Linked DNA regions of Homo sapiens. The protein of the gene in region 1 purifies or fractionates together with the protein of each later gene. This does not show direct contact. Each region holds a gene or a part of one and is shown in the gene's direction. Other genes may lie near its edges.

What was found.
Region 2: the proteins of TIPRL (region 1) and PSMB7 fractionate together in Homo sapiens (co-fractionation; one large-scale study listed by BioGRID). This does not show direct contact.
Region 3: the proteins of TIPRL (region 1) and CAPZA1 fractionate together in Homo sapiens (co-fractionation; one large-scale study listed by BioGRID). This does not show direct contact.
Region 4: the proteins of TIPRL (region 1) and MCMBP fractionate together in Homo sapiens (co-fractionation; one large-scale study listed by BioGRID). This does not show direct contact.
Region 5: the proteins of TIPRL (region 1) and DYNLT2B purify together in Homo sapiens (affinity purification with mass spectrometry; one large-scale study listed by BioGRID and IntAct). This does not show direct contact.
Region 6: the proteins of TIPRL (region 1) and RPS6KB1 fractionate together in Homo sapiens (co-fractionation; one large-scale study listed by BioGRID). This does not show direct contact.
Region 7: the proteins of TIPRL (region 1) and GTF2I fractionate together in Homo sapiens (co-fractionation; one large-scale study listed by BioGRID). This does not show direct contact.

What each region holds. Positions count from the first base shown.
Region 1 is NC_000001.11:168,181,962-168,185,461, forward strand, and holds part of TIPRL (TIP41-like protein), read left to right. Parts: intron 1-1,940; coding exon 1,941-2,120; intron 2,121-2,817; coding exon 2,818-2,917; intron 2,918-3,500. UniProt on the Homo sapiens protein: May be a allosteric regulator of serine/threonine-protein phosphatase 2A (PP2A). Isoform 1 inhibits catalytic activity of the PP2A(D) core complex in vitro. The PP2A(C):TIPRL complex does not show phosphatase activity.
Region 2 is NC_000009.12:124,356,443-124,359,942, reverse strand, and holds part of PSMB7 (proteasome subunit beta type-7 precursor), read left to right. Parts: intron 1-756; exon of another isoform or gene 757-3,027; coding exon 3,028-3,179; exon of another isoform or gene 3,180-3,500. UniProt on the Homo sapiens protein: Component of the 20S core proteasome complex involved in the proteolytic degradation of most intracellular proteins. This complex plays numerous essential roles within the cell by associating with different regulatory particles.
Region 3 is NC_000001.11:112,657,832-112,661,331, forward strand, and holds part of CAPZA1 (F-actin-capping protein subunit alpha-1), read left to right. Parts: intron 1-1,190; coding exon 1,191-1,270; intron 1,271-1,869; coding exon 1,870-1,948; intron 1,949-3,374; coding exon of another isoform or gene 3,375-3,404; exon of another isoform or gene 3,405-3,421; intron 3,422-3,500. UniProt on the Homo sapiens protein: F-actin-capping proteins bind in a Ca(2+)-independent manner to the fast growing ends of actin filaments (barbed end) thereby blocking the exchange of subunits at these ends.
Region 4 is NC_000010.11:119,834,844-119,838,343, reverse strand, and holds part of MCMBP (mini-chromosome maintenance complex-binding protein), read left to right. Parts: intron 1-1,314; coding exon 1,315-1,448; intron 1,449-2,639; coding exon 2,640-2,804; intron 2,805-3,500. UniProt on the Homo sapiens protein: Associated component of the MCM complex that acts as a regulator of DNA replication.
Region 5 is NC_000003.12:196,304,741-196,308,240, reverse strand, and holds part of DYNLT2B (dynein light chain Tctex-type protein 2B), read left to right. Parts: intron 1-1,228; coding exon 1,229-1,298; intron 1,299-3,500. UniProt on the Homo sapiens protein: Acts as one of several non-catalytic accessory components of the cytoplasmic dynein 2 complex (dynein-2 complex), a motor protein complex that drives the movement of cargos along microtubules within cilia and flagella in concert with the intraflagellar transport (IFT) system.
Region 6 is NC_000017.11:59,931,121-59,934,620, forward strand, and holds part of RPS6KB1 (ribosomal protein S6 kinase beta-1), read left to right. Parts: intron 1-501; coding exon 502-602; intron 603-3,049; coding exon 3,050-3,140; intron 3,141-3,313; coding exon 3,314-3,404; exon of another isoform or gene 3,405-3,408; intron 3,409-3,500. UniProt on the Homo sapiens protein: Serine/threonine-protein kinase that acts downstream of mTOR signaling in response to growth factors and nutrients to promote cell proliferation, cell growth and cell cycle progression.
Region 7 is NC_000007.14:74,748,218-74,751,717, forward strand, and holds part of GTF2I (general transcription factor II-I), read left to right. Parts: intron 1-807; coding exon 808-873; intron 874-1,050; coding exon 1,051-1,234; intron 1,235-3,143; coding exon 3,144-3,199; intron 3,200-3,500. UniProt on the Homo sapiens protein: Interacts with the basal transcription machinery by coordinating the formation of a multiprotein complex at the C-FOS promoter, and linking specific signal responsive activator complexes.

The sequences.
Region 1 (3,500 bases):
GCTGAGGCACGAGAATCACTTGAACTTGGGAGGTAGAGGTTGCAGTACGCTGAGATCGTGCCACTGTGCTCCAGCCTGGATGACAGAGTAAGACTCCGTCCCCCACCCTCCGCCAAAAAAAAAAAAATGCCTTTTTTTATATGACAAAAGGAAGACTTACCCTCACCAATCCCAAATTTTTCTGTGATGCATTATCATAGATTGTAAAAACCACTAAGGTGCTAAATAAATTGGTTGGGTAAAATATTGGATTAAAGAAGCTCTTCTAATGAATATTTAAGGCACCTTAAAACCACAGGAGCTTCCTGTCTTCTCTCCTTGTAACTAGTTATACCTGTTTTTAAGTGGGAAGCTTGATGATGTTAGAAATAGGGCATTTTCAGGCCGGGCGCGGTGACTCACGCCTGTAATCCCAGCATTTTGGGAGACCGAGGCAGGTGGATCACCTGAGGTCAGGAGTTCGAGACCAGCCTGGCCAACATGGTGAAACCCTGTTTCTACTAAAAATACAAAAATTAGCCGGGCATGGTGGCACGTGCCTGTAATCCCAGCTCCTAGGAAGGCTGAAACAGGAGGATTGCTTGAATCTGGGAGGCGGAAGTTGCAGTGAGCCAAGATCGTGCCATTGCACTCCAACCTGGGCAACAGAGCGAGACTCCGTCTCAAAAAAAAAAGAGGGCATTTTGGCCTATGTTTAAGAAACTCTATATTTAGAACACTGAAGGACTGTAAATTAGTAACAGTGATTCTTTTACATATATGAGTGGAATATTTTATAGGACTGCCACATTTTTCCAGATATATTGGTTAGAATCCACAGACTCACATATTATTTCACATTTGGTATGCATTATTCAAGTTAAAACTTATTTTATGGAATCTTATGGAATATATATTCCAATTACAGTTTATTGTATCTAATCTTTTAAGTATTTAATATTTTCTATCTCCTAATAACAAAGAATAAATTTTACTTAAAATTATGATGAAAGTTAACATTGTTAGTCCTGAAGACCATTGTTAACATTGTGCAGTCCTGAAGACCTGCACCTCAAAGTTAGATCACTGATATGTGCACACAGAAATACACGTTTAGATGTAATAAATATACAATGTGTGTCCAGTTTTTTTCTTACTATTTTATCATAAGCATTTTTTCATATTATTATAGTCTCTCTTTAAACATTTGTAATGGTTCCATAATATTTCATCATATGGATATACTTTGGTTTGCATAATCATTTGTTGCTTTATAATGAAACATTCAGAGTATTTCTTTTTCATGATTATAAGTAAAGCCATTATAAGTATTAATGTGTATAATATTTTTCTGTACTTGGAATTATTCTTTAGTACAGGTATTCTAAAACTGATACTTTGGGTCATAAGTGTGTAAATTATGTTAAATTCCTGTGATTTTTTTTTTTTTTTGCTTGATTGTTGCCCCAGGGTGAAATGTAAATTGACACAATCCTTCTGAAAGTCTGTGTAGGCAAGTGCTGAGTTCCCTCATCAGTGTCAGGTGCTTTTGCTTTTTTCATCACCACGTTTTGAAACTTTTAACAATTGAGAATTTTAATGGAAAAATTATTTTCCTACAAGAGACAGTATCTTTAATTGCTTTGCTATCTTTTCTTCATACCCTCATGATATATATTATAGTAATATCTGTGTGCTATATATTATAGTAGTATAATAAGCTATTATATTACGTATTTGTATATTTATCTTATTTAGCCCACTACTTAGTACAGTGCCATATGATGATGAAAGAATGGATGATGAAAGCATTTTATAGACCTTGCAAATATATCATATTGATTAAATCATGTGCTGTGTAACTCATTCAGCAAGTAGGAAGAATTCTGTTGGGATGGAAAAGAAACAAAAATGCCAACAGCGATATAAAATTATCTCACCCGACTTTTGGTTACGTATAGATTAGCCGATGAATTACATATGCCATCTCTCCCTGAAATGATGTTTGGAGACAACGTTTTAAGAATCCAGCATGGGTCTGGCTTTGGAATTGAGTTCAATGCTACAGATGCGTTAAGATGTGTAAACAACTACCAAGGAATGCTTAAAGTGGCCTGTGCTGAAGAGTGGCAAGAAAGCAGGTGAGAATCCGGTCAATTAGGTTAAACAAAAAAGGTAATTAGGTTAAACAAAAGAGAAAAGACTTGAAAAAATATTCAGTAATGATACGTGTGTGTTGTTAGAATGAAGGGCTGGTATTATTAAACTTGAGAGTTGTATCATTCTAGAATTCGTTTTTCTCAGACATAAAAATGGAAGTTAATTACCCCACTGCTTGAATACTTGTTAAAGTGAATTACAACTGAGCTGAGCTATGTACGTTTTCGATTTTTCAGTGTTCCTTACTGAAGAGGCAGTAGGCTATACTTAATGTTCCTGTTTTTAAGAAAAAATGTTTACTTATGATATGCTTAATAAATACCCTATTTGAGAAGCATTGAAATTAAGACAACATGTTTTTCTTTGATAGTCAAATCAGCAATTATTTACTTTGTGCCTAATATGTACTAAGTACCTTAGATGATACAAATAAGTATAAACCTTTAAACCATGTCCTCAGGCTGTATACAGACTAATTGAAAAGACTACATCAGTACATGACAAGTTAAATAATAAATGCAGAAAAACTGTAAGAAAAACCTTGTACTGGTGAATTATAACAAGTGTATATATTTAATAGGATATGTTATTATAGAATATAATTTGATGTGATATATAAATACAGATAATCTCTATTCTGCATCACTGAATCTGATCCTTCTCATTTTGGTATTTGAGGACGGAGGGTGAACACTCCAAAGAGGTTATTAAACCATATGATTGGACCTATACAACAGATTATAAGGGAACCTTACTTGGAGAATCTCTTAAGTTAAAGGTAAATCTTACTTTTTTCTTTCATGAGTCATTGATTGTCTTGGACAGTCTGAGCATTAGAACTTTCTAGTAACGGGTTATTTTTTGCAACTATTTTTATCGTCCTTGTTTTCTGTTGTGGCATTCCTCAGAACCTAATGTGAGGGGGTTTTGCTTGTTGACTTATCAGTAGAAAATAAAAGACGGCATTAGTGGAAAAATTTATTTTTAAAAGTGTAGTTGGTGGCAACGGCAGACGGCCTTGTTGTTATCATTATCACTATCAAGAAACATTAAAATGTGTTTCGGGCCTTGGTAATGTATTACATGATTTAGACAGAACCTGCTAGCTTGTAGCTCACAAGTTTATAGATGAACAAATATATGAGCAAAAAGAACTTCTGGTTAGACAAAGTAGGTTTATGCCCTGTCTGCCCTGAGTATGAACCTGAAATGACTTTAGGAAGTTACTTAATTTGAGTCTCAGTTTTATCAATAAATTGGGTAAACAGAAATATCTACCTCAAAGCAGAGTTTTGATGTGAAATAATTTATGGGAAGCTCTCAATAAATTCTAAAGCTCTATATTAGTATTAAGTCCTGTG
Region 2 (3,500 bases), on another chromosome or scaffold:
TTATGAGGGTTTGGGGTGTTAAGGGAGGGATATGTTAAATAAGACCTTAGATCTTAATATTGATCTGGTGTTGCATTGTAGAGATGTTGCCCTAACTTGGTTGAGAATGAAGAAGGCCCTTGAAGTGGTAGTCTTGGGTATTTTGGGAAACACTGCCCTCCAACCCCCAATGGGAGTGACCATCAGAGGAGCTGCTGGTTGGCCCAGAGAGAAACCGGCAAACACCATCCTCCTCCTCTTAAATTTACCCAGGTCTTAAGGCTCTTTGGTGGTGGGGCGTGAATGACACAGCCTTGAGTCAGGGACTAGCTGAGGAGCCCCCGGCCCAAGGAAGGTCACTTGCGAGTTGGTGTGGTGCTGCGGCCTTGTGGCTCTGGGGCCTGATGGGCCTGTTTTACTATTTTTTGTTTACCTGCTGTGTGACCTTGTGTAAGTCATTGACCGTCAGCCAGAGTTTCTGACCATACCAACATCAAAAGATGGTTGGGGGCAGGGGTGAACATGATGATCATCAAAGTGCCCAACTCAGGGCTTGGCACGTTAGAGTGCTGGTAGATGTTGATTGATTGATTGTTTTAGTGAGCATATAGGTGCTCCATAAATCTAAGTTTCATTCCATCTCCTAACATCTTCAGCCATGTGTATATGAGACATGGAGTGGGACTGGGGGGAAAAAAGTGAGAAACTTGAGATTTTCTTCCTTAAGGAATGATCTTCCCTAGAATTGGTGGGGAGGAAAGGAATTTAAAAGATGTATTTTCCCAATTTAAAAAAGCCTTTATTCATACTTAAATAACAGCATACATGATAATTTGATGAGTAAATCAAACTATATAATTTTAAAATTTGCATATTTTAAAGTTTTATCAGTTACTTACAGACTGTTTGCAAAATAGAGGGAGGATCACTCATAATCTTACATAGCACTGTCAGCAGTCTGCTGTCCTGTGCCCAGTCGAATGGATTGACACTAGATATGCATGTCTCATGTCATTCGTATATTTCCGTTTCCCCAAGTCTTCACCTGTCCCCATCTACCCAGATCATTTGGGAAATGTAAATGTGCAGTCCTAAGCGCTGCCCGCAGGGTCGCGATGTCTGCCAGGTACTGCTGGCTGGCTCTAGACACCAGCAGCAGTGATAAGAAACAAAGCAGAGGAGACAGTTAAATGGTAGAGAAGAGAAGGGGGAGCAGAGGTGGTAGGCCGGGAACAGGGGAATAAGTATGGTTCTCCCCGCACGTGCCCATGTGCGCACACACCGAAGGCCATTTAAAGGGAAGCGGTTAGGTATGAGGTTGTGTTTGCTGAATTAGTGGTTGGTTTTTGCTGTCTATCTAGATAGCAGCTGCTGCCAGCTCCTCGTCTAAGAGGCTTTCTTTGCTGCCACCTTCACTGGTTTGTGGAAAGCTTCTGGCCCCATAGACTGTTGAGAATTCCAGGAGAAAATTCCTAATTAGCGGATCCCGTTTGAATGCATTCTTACAGGACTGCATATGTACAAAAGAAGAATTGGCTTCATTGGCCCCACATAGATGTCACGTGAGAGTGAAAAAACCTGGGGTATAAATATCAAAGGAACCCCTATCTGCTGGTTTGCTGAGGAGCCCACTTCCAGCAGAACCTTCTCTGTCCTTCTGAGTCTGTAGAGGGCGCTTATGTCACTGGAATCCTAGTCTGGCATGGGGCAGGCAGAGGAGCAGGAGCCCCCAGTGGGTTCAGATCTTCTGAAAACTTGAGGTTAGCGGATCTGCCCTTTGAGGGTCTCAGGCTGGATTTGGGCCTGGAGTCCGTGTTTCTCCAAGGGTGTTGCTTGGGTGAGCGCTGGAGTGCACTTGCATGTGTATGTACTCTCACGCCCTCGTGGACTGGGAAGGCGCCGTAGCACAGGTTAGATTCCCTGCTTTCAGGGAGCCTGGTTCATTTTTGTCCTCGTTGTATATAGAGCTTGAACTTGGTGTTCCCCAGGTCCAGTACCACTGCCGTTGCTGCCTGCCTTCTGTTTCACTGCTGTTTTCTGAGTGCCTCGTGTGCAGCCTGTCCTTCAGCCCTCCCTGAAGCTCTGCTGACCAGCTGTGTTCCCAGCTCCTTTTCACGTGCTCTTTAGCCAGCCTTACCCTGCATTGTACTTACTTGGGTCAGGTGCCCCTGCTAGACTCTTAAGCCCCTAGGGGGCAGGGATCTGGGGGCGTCATCCACCTCTGCAGCCCTAGCTTCTGGTATAGCATGTGATAGGACATAGCATGTGATGGGGCTTCTCGGATAAGAAAGGGATGAGTCCATCTGTTCACCAGTAACTATTAGGGATGGGGATTTGTGTTTAAAGGTGGGGCAAAGGAGAGAGTGATTCAAAGTAATGGATTACTTCAGTGAACCTATAGGTTCCTTAGTAGGAGAGAGAGATTATTCTGGGCAAGAGGTCCCGCCCTTGGTCTGCCAGCATTTCCCCAGAACTACCGGCTTGTGTTTTGGTGTTAGTTTCTTCCTCCTACAGTGCTGACTTTCTCAAGTAACTTTCAGCTATTGTTGGACATTCTTGATCAGGGGATAGTTAGTAAACTGCAGTCAGTGGGCCAGATCTGGCCCACTGCCTGTTGCTAATAGAGTTTTATTGGAACACAGTTATACCCATTTTTTAATGTATTTGTGTGTGGCTGTTTTGTGCTAGCGTGACAGAGTTGAGTAGGTGTGGTAGAGACTTTTGGCCACAAAGCCTAAAATATTTACTACCTGGCCCTTTTAAAGATAAGTTACTAACCCTCTAGTAACTGTCAGCCCATCGTTTTGTGGTGATTGTCTGATGTGGTCAAGAGGCGGTGCATGCATAAAAAGTTTTAAAGGCCTGGGTCGGGAACTTTGGGTAAATAATCAAGGTACTTTGAGATCTTTTCCTCATCTGTGAGATGGGCATTAAAAACAACACCTGTCTCGCGGGAGGTCTTGCGCACTGCTAGTGGACGTACATTGCGGATGTCAGAGCAGGCCCTAGTTTGGCCGGGGACATTATTGCCGCCGTTCTGTTTCTCAGGAGGAGGAAGCCAAGAATCTGGTGAGCGAAGCCATCGCAGCTGGCATCTTCAACGACCTGGGCTCCGGAAGCAACATTGACCTCTGCGTCATCAGCAAGAACAAGCTGGATTTTCTCCGCCCATACACAGTGCCCAACAAGAAGGGGACCAGGTGAGTGAAGGAGACGAAGTTCTTCCTGGGTCCCCTGGCGTCGTGGCCACCCTTGGTATCTCCATGGCATCTGGATGGAGTTTTCCTGGTTCTTTCCACATTAAGTACATCCAGTGTTCCCAAATCAACCTCCCACACAGACCTTCGGCTTGTTACTTGCTTTATGACAGTGGGCTGCTGTCAGGTGTAGGAAAGTGATTTAATTTGATGGGAGAGGTGGAGGGTGGCCCAGGAAAGAGCCCTAGGCTGGGAGGTGGGGCCGGAGAGGTTTGGATCATCTGCTGTCCTTTCTCAAGTGTCTTAAAGAATCCCCTGATTTCT
Region 3 (3,500 bases), about 56 Mb from region 1:
TCCCCCTGCCACAGCCTCTCAAAGTGCTGGGGTTACAGGCTTGAGCCATTGCACCCAGCCCCCTAATTATTCTTACTCTATACTAAGTTCTTTTTTTCCCCTACCTTTGTAAATGTAGGCATTCCCCCAAAGTTCATAATTCATTTAATGCAGGTAAAGTAACACAGACTTCGGTGTCACAAAAACAGTGGGTTTGGATTCTACCTTTACCACTTCCTGAGTGACCTTAGGCAAGAAGCTTTGTGAACTTCAACTTCTTATCTGTAGATAACACTGTATTTCATCAGATTTATTAGAGGAAAAAGAAAATACATGTAAGAACATATTTTGTGGACTATAAAGCGCTATTTTTTTTTTCTTACTTTCCCTTGGTGATTGCATTTCCATTCACCTCTCCCACACTAAAGAAGAGTTAGTGTTTCTAACTACTAACTAGACATCTCCATCTGTAATTTCCAGTTTGTTAATGACACCACCATCTTTTTAGTCACTCTTGAGTTCCTTCTTTCCTTTGCCCATCATTTGCAATATACTGCTAGACTTTGATTGTACTTCTACATTCTGTGTGCAACTCTTCCTTTCCATTCCCATTAATATAACTCTGACTTGTTGCCTAGATTAATCCTGTGGCCTCCTAACCAAGCTTCAGCTTTTCTTCGTTTTATCTTGAATACCAGTATTGATTATTCTCCCACAATATTAGTTCTAGTCATGTTTTGCTGTCTCTCCATTGCCTATAGAATAAAATCTTAAACTTCTTACTTTACATCTACTATTACATGACCTAAATCTACCATCCTGTTTTGTCTTTCATTAGTCCACTTCACACACACCCTTTAAACCTGACAGTCTTGTTCACTGAACAAGTCCTTAGTTTCCTGTCTTGCCTTTATTTTCAGTCTCTGCTTATCAGAATCTCATCTGTCTTGTATGACCCAGCCTAAATGGCACCCGCCTTGTACCCCAAACCAAGAGCAGTATTTCCCTCTGTTTTCATTGTATCACTGTCTCTGGTAGAACCTAACATGTTCTGCTTTGTTTTCATATCCCATGTGCACTATTGTGTTCTAAGCTCATTTTATGTGATTCTTTGTCTCCCCCAAGGATTTAACACTCTGCTTTTGTACAATGCATGTTGTTTAAATTAAAAGTGTTTGGAGTCTTTAACTATTTTTTTTTCCCAACAATAGGTTTATGCTAAAACTATCGATGGGCAACAGACTATTATTGCATGTATTGAAAGCCACCAGTTTCAGCCTAAAAACTTCTGGTAAGAAGTAGATATTCTCTTCTATTTACATCTGAAAGAAACCAGCAGTTGAGACTTGGTTTTTAATCCAACTAGCTTGGAATAATTATTTAACTTACAGACTTCAGTTTTCCATCTATAAATGAGGGATTTAGATTCCTTACAGTTCTAAGGTTTTATAATTATATTTTCCTTTAAAAGTTACTCTTATTTTGAGTGAGAACAAGTGATTAGTAAAGTGCCCTGTTGAAAATCTGAGTTTTACTTGGCTTAGGGTTACTGCTACTTGAGTTAATTGTGTAACTCAGCAGCCTATTCATCTGATTTTGGAAGAGCCTCCCATGAGCAGAATAGGCATGGTTTTCCATTTCAAGGGAAAAAAGGAAAAATGAAAGACAAAATAACTTAGAAAAGGCTTATGGTCAGGCCACTTAGATCCAGACTTACATTTGAGTAGACAGAGCTTTGGGTTTGCCAAACTGGAAATGACAGTTTCTCTCTCTCTCTTTTTTTTTTTCTTTTTTTGCACCCCTCTTTCCCAACTTCTGTACCTCAGTGGCAAATCACCTCTTTCTTGTGCTTATTGCTAATTCTGCAATGTTGTGTGTGTGTTTTAATAGGAATGGTCGTTGGAGATCAGAGTGGAAGTTCACCATCACACCACCTACAGCCCAGGTGGTTGGCGTGCTTAAGATTCAGGTGAGATTCCAACATGTTTATAGACTTAAAACTTCACATCTTTAAAACATGTGCAGGTTGCTTTGGTATTAAATAAGGACCAAGTATGTGTAGATGCAAAGGGAGACTGATGGCAGTGAATAGAAATAGAAGCCTCCTTCTTGGGGTGGTAAACAGAGAGAGCTATTCTGAGTTGATAAAGGATAGCATGTAGAGTGTATGGCAACATGGTTATTGTTATTTTTCCTTCAATGGTAACATAAGATATAACTAGGAATTATCAAACAGCAGTTTTAGGAAAGATTTAAAATTAATAATAATAATAATTATTATTTTTTGGGACAGAGTTTCACTCCATCACCCAGACTGGAGTGCAGTGACGTGATCTCAGCTAACTGCAACCTCCACCTCCCAGCCCAGGCTGGGTTAATTCCTAAAAATTATAACTAGAGAGAATGGCAGGTGTTTTGGAATATAAATAGCCAAGCAGAAGTAGATTGATTGATTGATTGATTGATTGACTGATTGATTGATTTTTGAGATGGAGTTTTGCTCTTATTGCCCAGGCTGGAGGTGCAATGGCATGATCTCGGCTCTTCGCAATCTCTGGCTCCTGGGTTCAGGTGATTCTCCTGCCTCGGCCTCCCGAGTAGCTGGGATTACAGGCATGCGCCATCACGCCTAGCTAATTTTCTATTTTTAGTACAGGCGGGGTTTCTCCATGTTGGTTAGGCTGGTCTCGATCTCCTGACCTCAGGTGATCCACCCGCCTCGGCCTCCCAAAATGCTGGGATTACAGGCGTGAGCCACTGCACCTGGCCCAGAAGTAGATTTTTAATGCTGATGTCAGGGTAGACAGGCAGCTGAATAAGATAGCTGTTAACTCATTTGATGCCTGTCTGGATTGAAGTTTAATATCCTAGCAGAGGTTTGACTTTCTAAACTCAGGGTGATTTAATATTTAAGCCTCACTAACTGTAAGGTCAGAATAGGTACAGGTAACCGAGAAGATCAGTACCTAATCGTACCTGTATTATATTATGTGAAGCTGTGCTTTAACAACAATTACCAAGAGTTGTCTTTTTTTTTTTTTTTTTTTTTTTTTGAGAAGGAGGAGAAGGAGGAGTCTCGCTCTGTCGCCCAGCCTGGAGTGCAGTGGTGCAATCTTGGCTCACTGCAACCTCTGCCTCCTGAGTTCAAGCAATTCTCTTGCCTCAGCCTCCCAAGTAGCTGGGATTACAGGCACACACCACCACGCCCAGCTAATTTTTGTATTTTTAGTAGAGGTGGGATTTCACTATGTTGGCCAGGCTGGTCTTGAACTCCTGACCTCAGGTGAGCCACTGTGCCCAGCCAAGAGTTGTCTTTTTTAATGCTCTAATTTAATCAAGTGCATAGGTAATAAATTCTGTAAAAGTAAATCTGCTCTTTTTATATATACCTATAGCTTCCTGCAACAAGTAGCTCCTGGCCATAGGAGCATGCCCAACTCAGGTGAGACAGGCTGGTGTTGAGTTCACAGCTCTAGGAGGAGCCCTCAGTGATATGTAAGAGTTGGTAGATAAATATGGCA
Region 4 (3,500 bases), on another chromosome or scaffold:
TTCTGAAAGTAGTACAATGGAACAGATATATATCTTATATAATATATCTTATATAATATATATCATATATAATATATAATGTCTCATTTAATATATATCATATATTATATATTTTATATATTATATAATGGAGCAATAATATAAAGGGTAGTATTAGTATAATGGAGCAGTAATATAAAGGGTAGTATTAGATGTTGAGGGTCGTAAGGGTTCTTTGGTGAAAAGTTTTATTGTGTCAGCGAATGGTTGGAGCAGTCTTTATGGGCCTACAGTGTTGGGTTCTTTTGCGTAGTTGTATATAACCTAAAATTTTTTTTTCAGTGAGTGTAAGGAATGGTAGAGACAGGGTCTCGCTATGTTGCCCAGCTGATCTTGAATTCCTGGGCTCAAGTGATCCTCCTGCCTTGGCCTCCCACAGTGCTGGGATTACAGGTGTGAGCCACTGCACCTGCCCCAAATAGCTTTTTAAAAAGCTGAAATGGGAGGAAGCTTTGCCTTTAGTCATCTAATACCTCAAAAGGGAAGTGTAGAAAAGATCTAATATAATTTTTTTTTTGTTTTGAGACGGAGTCTTGCTCTGTCGCCCAGGCTGGAGTGCAGTGGCCAATCTTGGCTCACTGCAACCTCCAACTCCCGGGTTCACACCATTCTCCTGCCTCAGCCTCCCGAGTAGCTGGGACTACAGGCACCCGCCATCACGCCTGGCTAATTATGTTTTAACCTCCCGTTGTAAAGTTTGTAAATGGTTTTCAGAGAATGTCTGAGAAATAATAGATCAAATGGTTTGCACTAACCTCAGTTGCGGAATATATTATAAAATCACAAGAAAGCAGATTGTTTACCAGTGCTCAAATGAAGACAATTAAGAATACACTGCTGGCGATCAGCTCAAGAGGTAAAGGTAGAAGAAAAAATGAGGTAGACTGGGCATGTTTAAGGCAAAGGGGAATATAAAATCTGTAAAATTCACTAGGCTGATCTATGTATGACGGTAGTTTTAGTGTTTCCTTGGTTTAGCCCTGTAAATACACCACTTAGAAATAATCATACTTGGGAACTATTTTATGTCTAGGTGCATACCAGATGCTAGGTATTAGATTTGCGGGGGTATCGCCTGCCCCCAGAAAGTTCTACCTTGACCAAGACTGTTGTAAGCCTACACACTTAGTGACGTTTAGCTTAGTAAACTGGACAGCGCCTCATACCCTTTATTAAAAGTGGTAGAAACTTCATGGCTCATCATCGGTGTCAGCAAAACTGATGTGTTTAGATGATTAAAGTCAAATGACTGAAAGTGTTTTCCTGCCTTTGTAGGTGTTCATAATGTGACAGCCCTGAGCAACCTCATAACGTGGCAGAAGGTGGATTATGACTTCAGCTACCATCAGATGGAATTCCCCTGCAATATTAACGTTTTCATTACTTCGGAGGGGAGGTCACTCCTCCCGGTATGATGAGTCATTTTTAAATGGAGGGAGGTTGACATTGGAAAAATACCTACATTTTTGCTGTTTCTTGGTACCGCTTATTAATAAGTTACATTTGTTGTAAAAAAAAAAAAAAAAAAAAAAAAAAAAAAAAAAAAACTGTGACTGCTGATCATTAAGGGAATTGAGTATTTTGCACTGCCATGGATGAAAACCTTACATCTACCAAGCTCAGGTATCAGCAAGTCATGAGACCAGCAAGGCTGTTGGCAGCAGAAACACCCACATCTGAGCATAGCGAGATTGCCTGATTTTAACATCCAGACTTCTGTTCTTGCTACCTTTGACCCATTGTTTTCTGCTAATCTTATGTGAAAAATATTTCAGAGTTCTTTTAAAATGTCCTTGGTCACTTGGTAGTTATTTTCATGCTTTGTGGTGAAATGCTCTGGTATGTCTTCAGAGTGGCTGGTAAAGAGAGCTTTTAATTCTGTGGATGATGGGAAATGCTCCCAGTTGTCAAATGGTGTGTAGTCTCTGAATAATAGTATTCACCTGCGATTGATGAGAAACCGCCTTTGACTAAGAATGAAATGGCTCAAGGATATGTTTTCTGTGTGCAAGTATTGATAGACCTTTTTAATTAGCTGCTTTTTAGAGGTTGGCTACATTTTTGTGTGCTTACTGATACCATTGAGGAAACATAAGTAACCAAGAAAAAGCTTTCATAATTATTTCTGAGGTAGTTATAAAGCATGTAAATTAATATTAAAAATAGATGCTCACTGGCTGCGGTGGCTCACGCCTGTAATCCTAGCACTTTGGGAGGCCAAGGCAGGTGGATTGCGTGAGCCCAGAACTTTGAGGCCAGCCTGGACAACATGACGAAACTTGTCTCTACAAAAAATCCAAAATTAGTCAGGCATGGTGGCGTGCACCTGTGGTCCCACTACTGAGGAGGCTGAGGTGGGAGGATCACTTGAGCCTGGGAAGCAGGTTGCAGTGAGCTGCAATCACACCACTGCACTCCAGCCTGGGTGACAGGACAAAACCCTGTCTCACACACAGAAAAAAAAACATTATTCCCTCCCCCTAAATAATAAGTGGTATTTTCTAATTCCCATAGGGGCTGACAGAGATGATGCATCTTTCTTTAAAAATGTAGATTAATTTAGGAACTCAGAAAATACAGTGTACTCCTTCTCTTTTCAGGCAGACTGCCAGATTCACTTACAGCCCCAGCTAATTCCACCAAACATGGAGGAGTACATGAACAGCCTTCTCTCAGCGGTGCTGCCTTCCGTGCTGAACAAATTCCGCATTTATCTAACTCTTTTGAGATTCTTGGAATATAGCATATCTGATGAAATAACCAAGGTATGTCTAGGTTAAAATAAAGGATTTCCCTGTGTTGAATTGCAGTATGCAACCAATTTACATTTACCATAATTACTGATAAGGTAATTTTGTTATTTGTTTTCTGTCATGTCTTTTTTTATTCCTCTGTTACTCCATTATTGTCTTTTTGTTTGAAATAGGTATTTTCCAGTGTCCCATTTTAATCCCTTGAAGTTTCTTAAAGTTATTTTCTTAGTAGTTGTCTTTGGGGGATAAACTTAACATGTTAGTATAATCATCTATTAGGGATTAATGCCAGTTTGTTTAGTTATTTTTAATTTAAAAAAAATTTGTGTGGCTAATGCCATTTTAATTATATTATACAAAGACTTTGCCCCTTTATAATTCCGTTCCTTCTCCTCTCCCTTGTGCTCCTGTCATACAATTACCTCTCAGTACATTGTATGTCCATCAACACATTTAGAATTACTGCTTTTGCAGTTGTCTTTTAGAGAAAAAAGTTAGAAATGGAAAAGACTTCTGTACTATTTTTTCTATTTGCCTATGCAATCACTTTTACCAGCACCCTTTATTTCCTCATGTGGGTTCATGTTACTGTCTAGTATCTTTTCATTTCAGCCTGAAGAACTGTCTTTAGTGTTTCTTGCATGGCAGGTCTACTTGTGCAAATTCTTTTTTTTTTTTTTTTTTTTTTTTGAGACAGGGTCTCGCTGT
Region 5 (3,500 bases), on another chromosome or scaffold:
AAGTCTTTTCCAGTGATTTCTTGCCACTGCCCAGACAAACAGAGGAACTGCCCCCACTGGCTCTGTGTTCCTGATGTACATCATACATGCCACTCCTTGAATTATAAGCATACTCAATTTATAATTTATTTTTCTATTTTCTTTTTTTTTTTTTTTTTCGAGATGGAGTTTTGCTCTTGTTACCCAGGCTAGTGTGCAATGGTGCGATCTCAGCTCACTGCAACCTCCGCCTCCCAGGTTCAAGCAATTCTCCTGCCTCAGCCTCCCGAGTAGCTGGGGTTACAGGGATCTGCCACCATGCCTGGCTAATTTTTATATTTTTTAGTAGAGACGGGGCTTAACCATGTTGGCCAGGCTTGTCTCAAACTCCTGACCTCAGGTGATCCACTGGCCTCACCTTCTGAGAGTGCTGGGATTACAGGCGTGAGCCACCGTGCCCGGCCTATTTTTCTATTTTCCTTTGAGTTCTTTATTACTGTGAGTTCTTTAAGGCAAGAAAAACGTCTTATTTATTTCTCTATCTTGAAGGTTCAGCTCACTAGCTGACTTATAGTAGGGGAAAAAGGAAGGAAGCTAAGGTTTATTGAAGGACTAGTATTTAACAGCACTGTTTAGATGCTTTAGATATTACTATATCTGACCGGGCGCGGTGGCTCACGCCTGTAATCCCAGCACTTTGGGAGGCCAAGGTGAGTGGATCACCTGAGGTCAGGAGTTCGAGACCAGCCTGGGCAACATGGTGAAACACCTTTTCTACTAAAAATACAAAAATTAGCCAGGTGTGGTGATGCATACCTGTAGTCCCAGCTACTGAGGAGGCTGAGGTAGGAGAATCACTTGAACCCTGGAGGCAGAGGTTGCCGGTGAGCTGAGATCGTGCCACTGTACTCCAGCCTGGGCAACAGAGTGAGAATCCATCTCAAAAACAAAACAAAAAAAAGATACTACTATATCTTACCTAACCTTATAACAATCTTGGGAGGTAGGTACTGATATTCCTGTTTAATAAGGGAGACTTAAACTGAAAAGTTAAATTACTTTCTGAGGTTATACACTTGCTGAGTTATAGTTAGGATCTGCCTTCACGTCCTCCTGACCCCCAAGCTTACCACCATATTCATTAAGTACTTGTGGATTGAATGTTTATGTCCATTTCTGGGCAAATTTGTCTTCAATAAGTAATTTTACTACATATTTGCTTATAAATAACCTTATTTTTTCTTTCTAGAAATGGGATTTGACCGATACAAAATGGTGGTGCAAGTAGTGATTGGAGAACAAAGAGGTGAAGGAGTATTGTGAGTAGCTGGATTTTCCTTCTTGTTTTAGTCATCTATATTTCTTATGAGGTATCTGTCCTTTGGACAATTCAGTAAGAGTGCCTTTACAAGAGTGAGAAGGGCCGGGTGTGATGGGTCACACCTGTAATCTCAGCACTTTGGGAGGCTGAGGCGGGTGGATCACCTGAGGTCAGGAGTTCAAGACCAGCCTGGCCAACATGGCGAAACCCCGTCTCTACTAAAAATTAGCCGGGTGTGATGGCGTGCGCTTGTAGTCCCAGCTACTCAGGAGGCTGAGGCAGGAGAATCACTTCAACGCAGGAGGTGGAGGTTGCAGTGAGCCAAGATCGTGTCATTGCACTCCAGCCTGGGTGACAGAGTAAGACTCTGTCTCAAAAATAAATAAATAAAATATCTTTATTATCTCTAAAATATTGTCAGTCCTTAATATCATAAAATATGCTGTTATTATTCAGATATGCCTCATATATGTATGTATGTGTTTTCTTTCTTTTCTTTTTTTTTTGTTTAAAGAGACAGGGTCTCATTTTGTCACCCAGGTTGGTGTGCAATGGCACTATCACAACTCACTGCAGCCTTGGCCTCCTGGGCTCAAGTGATCCTCCTGCCTCAGCCTCCTGAGTAGCTGGGACTGCAGGTGTGCACCACCACACCTGGCTAATTTTCTTTCTTTCTTTTTTTTTTTTTTTTTTGCAGAGATGGGTCACACTCTGTTGGCCAGTCTGGTCTTAAACTCCTGGGCTCAGGCAATTCACCAGCCTTGGCCTCCTAAAGTGGTGGACTTATAGGCTTGAACCACCATGCCAGACCTATTATTTTCTTTTTACAATTTTTTCAAATTAAGATTCAAACAAGGTCCACACATTGCATTTGGTTAATATGTAAATTAGGATTTTTTTTTAAGACGTAAGATCTTGCTATCTTGCCCAGGCTGGAGTGCAGTGGCTATTCACAGATGTGATCATAACACACTACAGACTAGAACTCCTGGGCTCAAGTGATCCTCCCACCTCAGCCTGCCAGGTAGCTGGGACTATAGGTGCACACCACAGCATCTGGCTTTAAATTTACTTCAATGTGTTGTTTTTGCTGCCTCATTTCTCTCTTTCTTCTTTTAATCCTGCCATTTGATTTTATTTTTATGACAGTCTTGCTTCCTCACCCAGGCTGGAGTGCAGTGGCATGATCTCGGCTCACTGCAACCTCTGCCTGCCGGGTTCAAGTGATTCTCCTGCCTCAGCCTCCTGAGTAGCTGGGATTACAGGCGCTCACCACCACGCCCAGGTAATTTTTGTATTTTTAGTAGAGATGGGGTTTCACCATGTTGGCCAGGTTGGTCTCCAACTCCTGACCTCAGGTGATCCACCCACCTTGGCCTCCCAAAGTGCTGGGATTGCAGGCGTGAGCCACTGTGCCCTGTCAGTTATTTATTTATTTATTTTTTCCTGCCATTTATTTGTTGAAGAAATTGGTTTGTTTGTCCTGTAGAGTTTCCTATATTCTGGCAGTTGCTGATTATATACCTATGGTATTGTTTAATATGTCTTCTATTTCCTGTACTTCTTGAAAATAAGTAGTTAGATCTAGTCTTAATTAGCCATAGGTTTGAGGTTGGGGAAATACTGTTTTCTATACATCCTATTGCATCTTCTCAGAAGGTACAAAATAGCTGGTCATCTCTTTTTGCTTTGTTAAGGTTGATCATGGAGTTCAGATATTGTCAGATGGATCCATCTATTATAAAGTTTCCCATCAGGGCCGGGCGTGGTGGCTCACACCTGTAATCCCAGCACTTTGGGAAGCTGAGGCAGGAGGATCACTTGAGCCCAGGAGTTCCAGACCAGCCTGGGCAACACAGCAAAACTCTGTCTCTACAAAAAAATACAAAAATTAGCCGGGCATGGTGGCACACGCCTGTGGTCCCAGCTACTTGAGAGACTGAGGTGGGAGGACCTCTTGAGCCCAGGAAGGTTGAGACTGCAGTAAGCCGTGATTGTGCCACTGTACTCCAGCCTGGGTGACAGAGTGAGACCCTGCCTCAGATAGGTAGGTAGGTAGGTAGGTAGATAAGTGCTTACCTTGTCTTCTAGTTTCCATTGTTTCTGTTGAGAAGTCAGCTGTAAGTTTTATTATTCAATTTAAGATGGTATGTCCTCTCTAGCCACTATTACTTTCTTTGTATTTATTCTGCTTAGAGCA
Region 6 (3,500 bases), on another chromosome or scaffold:
TGGGCCTCAGCTGTCTATAAATATGTAGCTGTATTAAGTAAGGGATGAGTGGGCTTCTAAGGGTCAGGTTATAAGATACCTTTTGAAATCAAGATGTGATCTCTGAGAATAACAAAGTTCCTATTTCCTATGGGATTTTAAAGTTGGGTGTGGATGGGAGAAATTTGCTTGAAATGAATGGCTATTAGCTTAATTCCTACACAGACAGAACAAAACATGACCAATGGCAGTTTAGCATATTCTGGACATCTTTGCAATTTTAGCAATATATTCTAATGGCAAAATAAAGCACTTTATAGTTTCACTAAAATGAGTGAAACATAAATGTCCCCATGCCTTTTGGCAGCATCCTATGCCATCTCTTTTTCCAATACATCCCCCTACCCCACTAATTTGGTCTTTGGTGCATGTCTGTTTCTTTCAAGGAATTTTGCTCCATACGTAAACTGCTTTGGATAGATTACACTCTTTTTAATTTTATTAAATCACTTTTGTTTCCAGCTTTTACTTGGCAGAAATCTCCATGGCTTTGGGGCATTTACATCAAAAGGGGATCATCTACAGAGACCTGAAGCCGGAGAATATCATGCTTAATCACCAAGGTGGAGACATACCGTAAACAATTCTATAGTAAATAATCATCTTAAAATCCTCCCACATAGGTCGTGGCCATTTTCAAAGCCCCAAATTCATCTCTCTATTTTGTATATTTCCTCCCTCAGAATTCATGGCATCATAGTACTTGCTGATATTTTAAGTCTTTAGGTAATTACGCTTGGTGAGAGTAAAAGAAGTTGAGGATAATAGTCGCTCAACTGCCTTTTTTAGTTTAATCCTTACTCTTTATAGTTTTTCATGTTTTTGGAATCTTTACATCAAATGTTGTATAATGTTTTAGACTGTAAAAGCCAGTCTAAACATTAATTTTGGCTTGTTACTTAAATTGAAAAGTGAATCTCAATTATATAAGTTGAGTTTTAATAATGAAAATATGTAAATATTGGCTGGGCACAGTGGCTGACACCTGTAATCCCAGCACTTTGGGAGGCTAAGGTGGGTGGATCACCTGAGGTCAGGAGTTCAAGACGCCTGGCCAACATGGTGAAACCCCATCTCTACAAAAATACAAAAAAAAAAAAAAATTAGCTGGGCATGATGGTGGGTGCCTGTAATCCCAGCTACTCAGGAGGCTGAGGTGGGAGAATCGCCTGAACCCAGGAGGCGAAAGTTGCAGTGAGCCAAGATCGCGACATTATACTCCAGCCTGAGTGAAAAGAGCGAGACTCCGTCTCAAAAAAAAAGAAAATATGTGAATATTAGAAGCTATGCTTCTTACAGTAGGTTTTATTAATGCTGGGAAAAGGATTGAAATTGAACCAAAGTATTTGATAAAACTTTGGAAATATGATGTTTAGTAGGCATCAGGTTACTTTTTTTTTTTTTTTTTTGAGATGGGGGTCTCACTCTGTCATCCAGGCTAGAGTATGGTGGCATGATTACAGCTCACTGCAACCTCCGCCTCCCAGGCTCAAGTGATCCTTCCACCCCGGCCCCTCAAGTAGCTGGGGCCACTGTGGCACACCACCACGCCTGACTAATTTTTGGTATTTTTTGTAGAAATGGGGTTTCATCATGTTGCCCAGGGTGGTCTCAAACTCCTGAGCTCAATTGATCTGCCTGCCTTGGCCTCCCAAATTGCTGGGATTACAGGCATAACCCACCTTCCCCCCAGCCAGAATCAGTTTATTCTTGCTGTTTGTTTGTAACAACAAACATAAACATCAGAGAGACTGATAATCTATACAACTATAGATATAGCACAGTGAGCCTTGACTACAACTGCATGCTGCTAAAGACAGCTCAATTTATGCTAATCTGGGCTGTAGGTAGACTTGGCAATTCACTCGTACCCCAAAGGAGCAACCAGCTGACCCAGGGTATCTAGAAGGTGGTAGCAGCTGCTAATCCTTAGATGTCTACAGAATAATCCATGAGGTAGTTAATTGTTTCAAACTCTTAGAAAATGATGTATGAACAACTGAGGCTCATATAAACATTCCAGATTATACTCCTCCACCCACCTTTTTTTTTTTTTTAAGGAGAAATGATATACTTAACTGAATATATCATGGGAATCAGTGTCTCTTCCTTCCTCTCATCAACACCTCCTCACTCCCCAAAACGTGGATTCTGATCTGAATTATAAGTCACAGGATAGAATAGGGGAGCGATAGAATAGTTAACTTCTTTGATTTATAAGGTTGAGTGTATCAGATGGTTCTGTGAAAATAAAGGCCATACTTCTTCTGTATCAGAGTGTAGTATATATTTACATTTGAATCAATAGGTCATTGTGCCTTTTCTGTGAAATGAACCTCAAATACTAGAGTCCCTGAGATTGTTGAACCACTTGTTATGACAGTCCAGTAAAGAAAGCTAAACTTGAACTGAAATGATCTTTGTGTAAGGTGGTAAGTTTTTTACTTTCTGGATCAGTGATGATTGATTCATACTATCTAGCAATTTTCTTTCTTTCCCCTAATTGGTAGCATTGGGCAGAATGAGCTACCTTGTTATAATGAGTTTCTGAGACCATTTTAAGGACTCTTCACAGTTCACTGTGATAAAAGCTATATATTTGAAGTACTGTCTCACACCTTTGTTCAAAAGGTACAGAGTATGTTTATTGGGGTCTGTGTACGTAAACTAGACTTCATAAAACAGTTTTCCCAGGATTTTTCTTTTTCAGGATGGTAGAGAATTTTGTATATACTTAAAGCTAGAGCCTTAAACAGGTTATTTCACTTTTTTCTCTATCTTTATTTTCTCTTTACTAGATAGATTGTATCATTGGCAAAAGGTGACTTTGCCCTAGCCTTAAACAGTTAGCATCCCATTTTATGGATGGTACCTTGTTCTTGACATCTGCAAGAAAATTTGAGGCAAGAAAAGTTAAATGGAAGGATAGATTAAAGTATTATGTGACATGTTCAAACACTGCACATACTTATAATTCGGAGAATAATCATGCTGTAATCTTTCATTGTAGGTCATGTGAAACTAACAGACTTTGGACTATGCAAAGAATCTATTCATGATGGAACAGTCACACACACATTTTGTGGAACAATAGAATACATGTGAGCTACATGTTAAACATAATTGGTTTGGGGGTAATAGCTAATTTTACCTGTTTTAAGGAATAGTATCTGTTTTCTGTACCCTCATTGACTCTGTATATTGTTTTTAAAATTCTAATTCAGATGATATGCAAATGGGTGAATTTTTAAGCATATTATTTTCCTCATTGTAGGGCCCCTGAAATCTTGATGAGAAGTGGCCACAATCGTGCTGTGGATTGGTGGAGTTTGGGAGCATTAATGTATGACATGCTGACTGGAGCAGTAGGTGCACAGTTAAAAGCTGCATGTATTATTGGTCTGTGCTGAGTCACTATAGCAAGAGACCTGTCCTGTGCTTTCTGAACATGTTACCAGTGG
Region 7 (3,500 bases), on another chromosome or scaffold:
TATATCAAAGGTTAAAGGAATAGCCCGTAGAGCCAGGCTGCCTGAGTTCAGATCTGAGTTCAAATCCGATGCCACTTGGGCAGGCGAATACACCCTGCCTCAGTTTCCCTTTGTGCAAAATGGTAATAACATTACTTTCTTTCTCATGAGGTTATGGTGAGGATTATAAATACTGTCATTTAAAGTACTTAGAACCATACCTCGCATGTAGTAGAGACTATAATTTGTGGGGGCATTTTGGGGGTTTTCATTTGTTTTTTCTTTATTTTAGCATTTGTTCACTTATTTGTAGTCAACATAAAAGCAATGTACTAAAACAGTTTGCTTATGTATCAGGATGGGAGTAGTTGTCAAGTCATATCATGGTAAAAGATTATGCATTTTTTATTTCTTCTTAAAGATGCACAAATAAGGCCAGGCGCAGTGGCTCACGCCTGTAATCCCAACACTTTGGGAGGCCGAGGTGGGCGGATCACCTGAGGTTGGGAGTTCGAGACCAGCCTGACCAACATGGAGAAACCCCGTGTCTACCAAAAATACAAAATTAGCCAGGCATGGTGGCGCATGCCTGTAATCCCAGCTACTCAGGAGGCTGAGGCAGGAGAACTGCTTGAACTCAGGAGGTGGAGGTTGCAGTGAGCAGAGATCGCACCATTGCCCTCCAGCCTGGGTAACAAGAGCGAAACTCTGTCTCAACAAAAAAAAAATAAGATGCACAAATAAGATGAAACACTCCTGCCTGTGAATGTGTATTGATAAGTACTGTGATAAGTATTGCAATTTAACTCTCTTATGTTTTATATGCAGAGGCCTGGAATGCCAAAATCACGGACCTAAAACAGAAAGTTGAAAATCTCTTCAATGAGAAATGTGGTAAGTCTATTTTGAAACCTTCTTACTGCCACGCAGGGTGCCTTCATGGGAGTAGGAGGGAGCAGAGTGGGATACTGAGCGTTGGAGTATCCCTGTCATTGGCAACGTGTGGGTTTTTCGGGATTGAATGGCGTCATTTCGCCCATGTTCTGTTTCGTGTACGCGGCTGTTTTGCAGGGGAAGCTCTTGGCCTTAAACAAGCTGTGAAGGTGCCGTTCGCGTTATTTGAGTCTTTCCCGGAAGACTTTTATGTGGAAGGCTTACCTGAGGGTGTGCCATTCCGAAGACCATCGACTTTTGGCATTCCGAGGCTGGAGAAGATACTCAGAAACAAAGCCAAAATTAAGTTCATCATTAAAAAGTAAGGAAACTGGATGAAGTGGGATTAGCATGAGTTGATTGTGTTTGACACTGGGAGATGGGTATGTGGGTTTGTGTTTGTGGCAGGGCTGAATTAGCTCTGGAGTCAGAAAAACTGCTTTTTAAGCTGCACTCTTGTATATGTTTAAAACTTCTGGCCAGGTGCGATGGCTCACACCTGTAATCCCAGCACTTTGGGAGGCCAAAGCAGGTGGATTACCTGAGGTCAGAAGTTCAAGACCAACCTGGCCAACATGATGAAACCCATCTCTACTAAAAGTACAAAAATTAGCTGGGCGTGGTGGCACGTGCCTGTAATCCCAGCTACTTGGGAGACTGAGGCAGGAGAATCACTTGAACCCAGCAGGCAGAGGTTGCAATGAGCCAAGATCGTGCCACTGCACTCCAGCCTGGGCAGCAAGAGCAAAACTCCATCTCAAAAACAAAAAAAAAAAAAAAAAAGAAGAAGAAATTTTCCTTATGCTGCTGGTAGAAGGGAAGGAGGACTCCACCATACTAGAGAGATAACGACTTTTGGTTGCTAAATCTACACAGCTATGTTGTTACTATTTGATGCTGCTGGAATCTGAGCAGCTGTTTAGTTTTTCAAGTCCTTTTATTTCTCCAACTTAATAGAATATTTTCAATTTCTCCTGTTTGCTTGAACATCTGTGGATTAGGCTAACATAATTGAAATAGATAGGAATGGGCCGGGTGCGGCCATAAATCCCAGCACTGTGGGAGGCTAAGGCAGGCAGATCACTTGAGGTCAGGAGTTCGAGACCAGCCTGGCCAACATGGTGAAGCCCCATCTCTACTTAAAATACAAAAAAAAAAAAAAAAAATAGCCAGGGGTGGTAGCTGGCACCTATAATCTCAGCTACTCAGGGAGGCTGAGACAGGAGAATCACTTGAACCCAGGAGGCGGAGGAGATCGTGCCATTGCACTCCAGCCTGGATGACAGAGTAAGACTCTGTCTCAAAAAAAATTAAAAAAAGAAATAAGAATAATTGGAATTTTATAGTACATGCTAATGCACATGAATTATTTGAAATCAATTGAAATGAATTTTAGGTTTCATTTGCTTGGTGTCAGGCTTAATTTTGAGTCACCCAGGGATGCTCTCAAGCAAAGCTGGCCACTTTTTTTTTTTTTTTTTTTTTTTTTTTTGTGAGACAGAATCTCGCTCTGTACCCAAGACTGGAGTGCAGTGGTGTGTGATATCGGCTTACTGCAAATTCCGCCTCCTGGGTTCAAGCGATTCTCCTGCCTCAGCCTCCAAAGTAGCTGGGATTACAGGCATGTGCCACCATGCCCAGCTAATTTTTGTATTTTTAGTAGAGAAGGGGTTTCACCATGTTGGTCAGGCTAGTCTCAAACCCCTGACCTCATGATCCGCCTGCCTCGGCCTCCCAAAGTGCTGGGATTACAGGCGTGAGCCACCGCGCCCGGCCAATGGCCACCTTTTATGCTTTTGGCCAGGTCTGCAGAGGTTTGGCAGCCTCTAAGCCCTCTGCTTCTGCTTCCGGAGTGAGAGCCTCAAGTGCTCCTGTTTTCACAGCCCATCTTGTGTTTCCATGCTGCGTTTGTGGGGCGTTTTCTCTTTGCATCCTCAATTCTGGCGCTGATTCTTTTCAGGATACATTCTAACCTTGGAAAGAAGATGCCAATAAAACCAGTGTAGGGGAAGGGCAGCCAATGAGAGGCAGCAATGGATGTTAAATTTACAATTGTGGTTTGTCTTTTTGGCTGTGGTTCTTTAGATAAGCATGTGATTTCTGTTCTTCATGACTAAGAATTGAATTTAGACTTTACAGAGTTACTGGTTTGTAAATCTTTGAGTTGTTTAAATTTTAATGTTAGAGTTTTACTGTTTGATCAGCACATTTTTTTTCTCTTTTGTCTATAGGCCCGAAATGTTTGAGACGGCGATTAAGGAGAGCACCTCCTCTAAGAGCCCTCCCAGTGAGTGTATTTTCTGTATTTTCATTGCTATAGAACACACGCTCTTAGGCATGCATTGTGCAGCTGTGGTTTACAAACATTGTTTAAAGAATAGCCATTGAGGCCAGGCATGGTGGTTCACGCCTGTAATCCCAGCACTTTGGGAGGCTGAGGTGGGTGGATCACCTGAGGTCAGGAGTTTGAGACCAGCCTGGCCAACACGGCAAAACCCTGTCTCTACTAAAAATATAAAAAATTAGCCAGGCGTGGTGGCAGGCGCCTATAATCCCAGCTACTCAGGAGGCTGAGACAGCAGAATCAC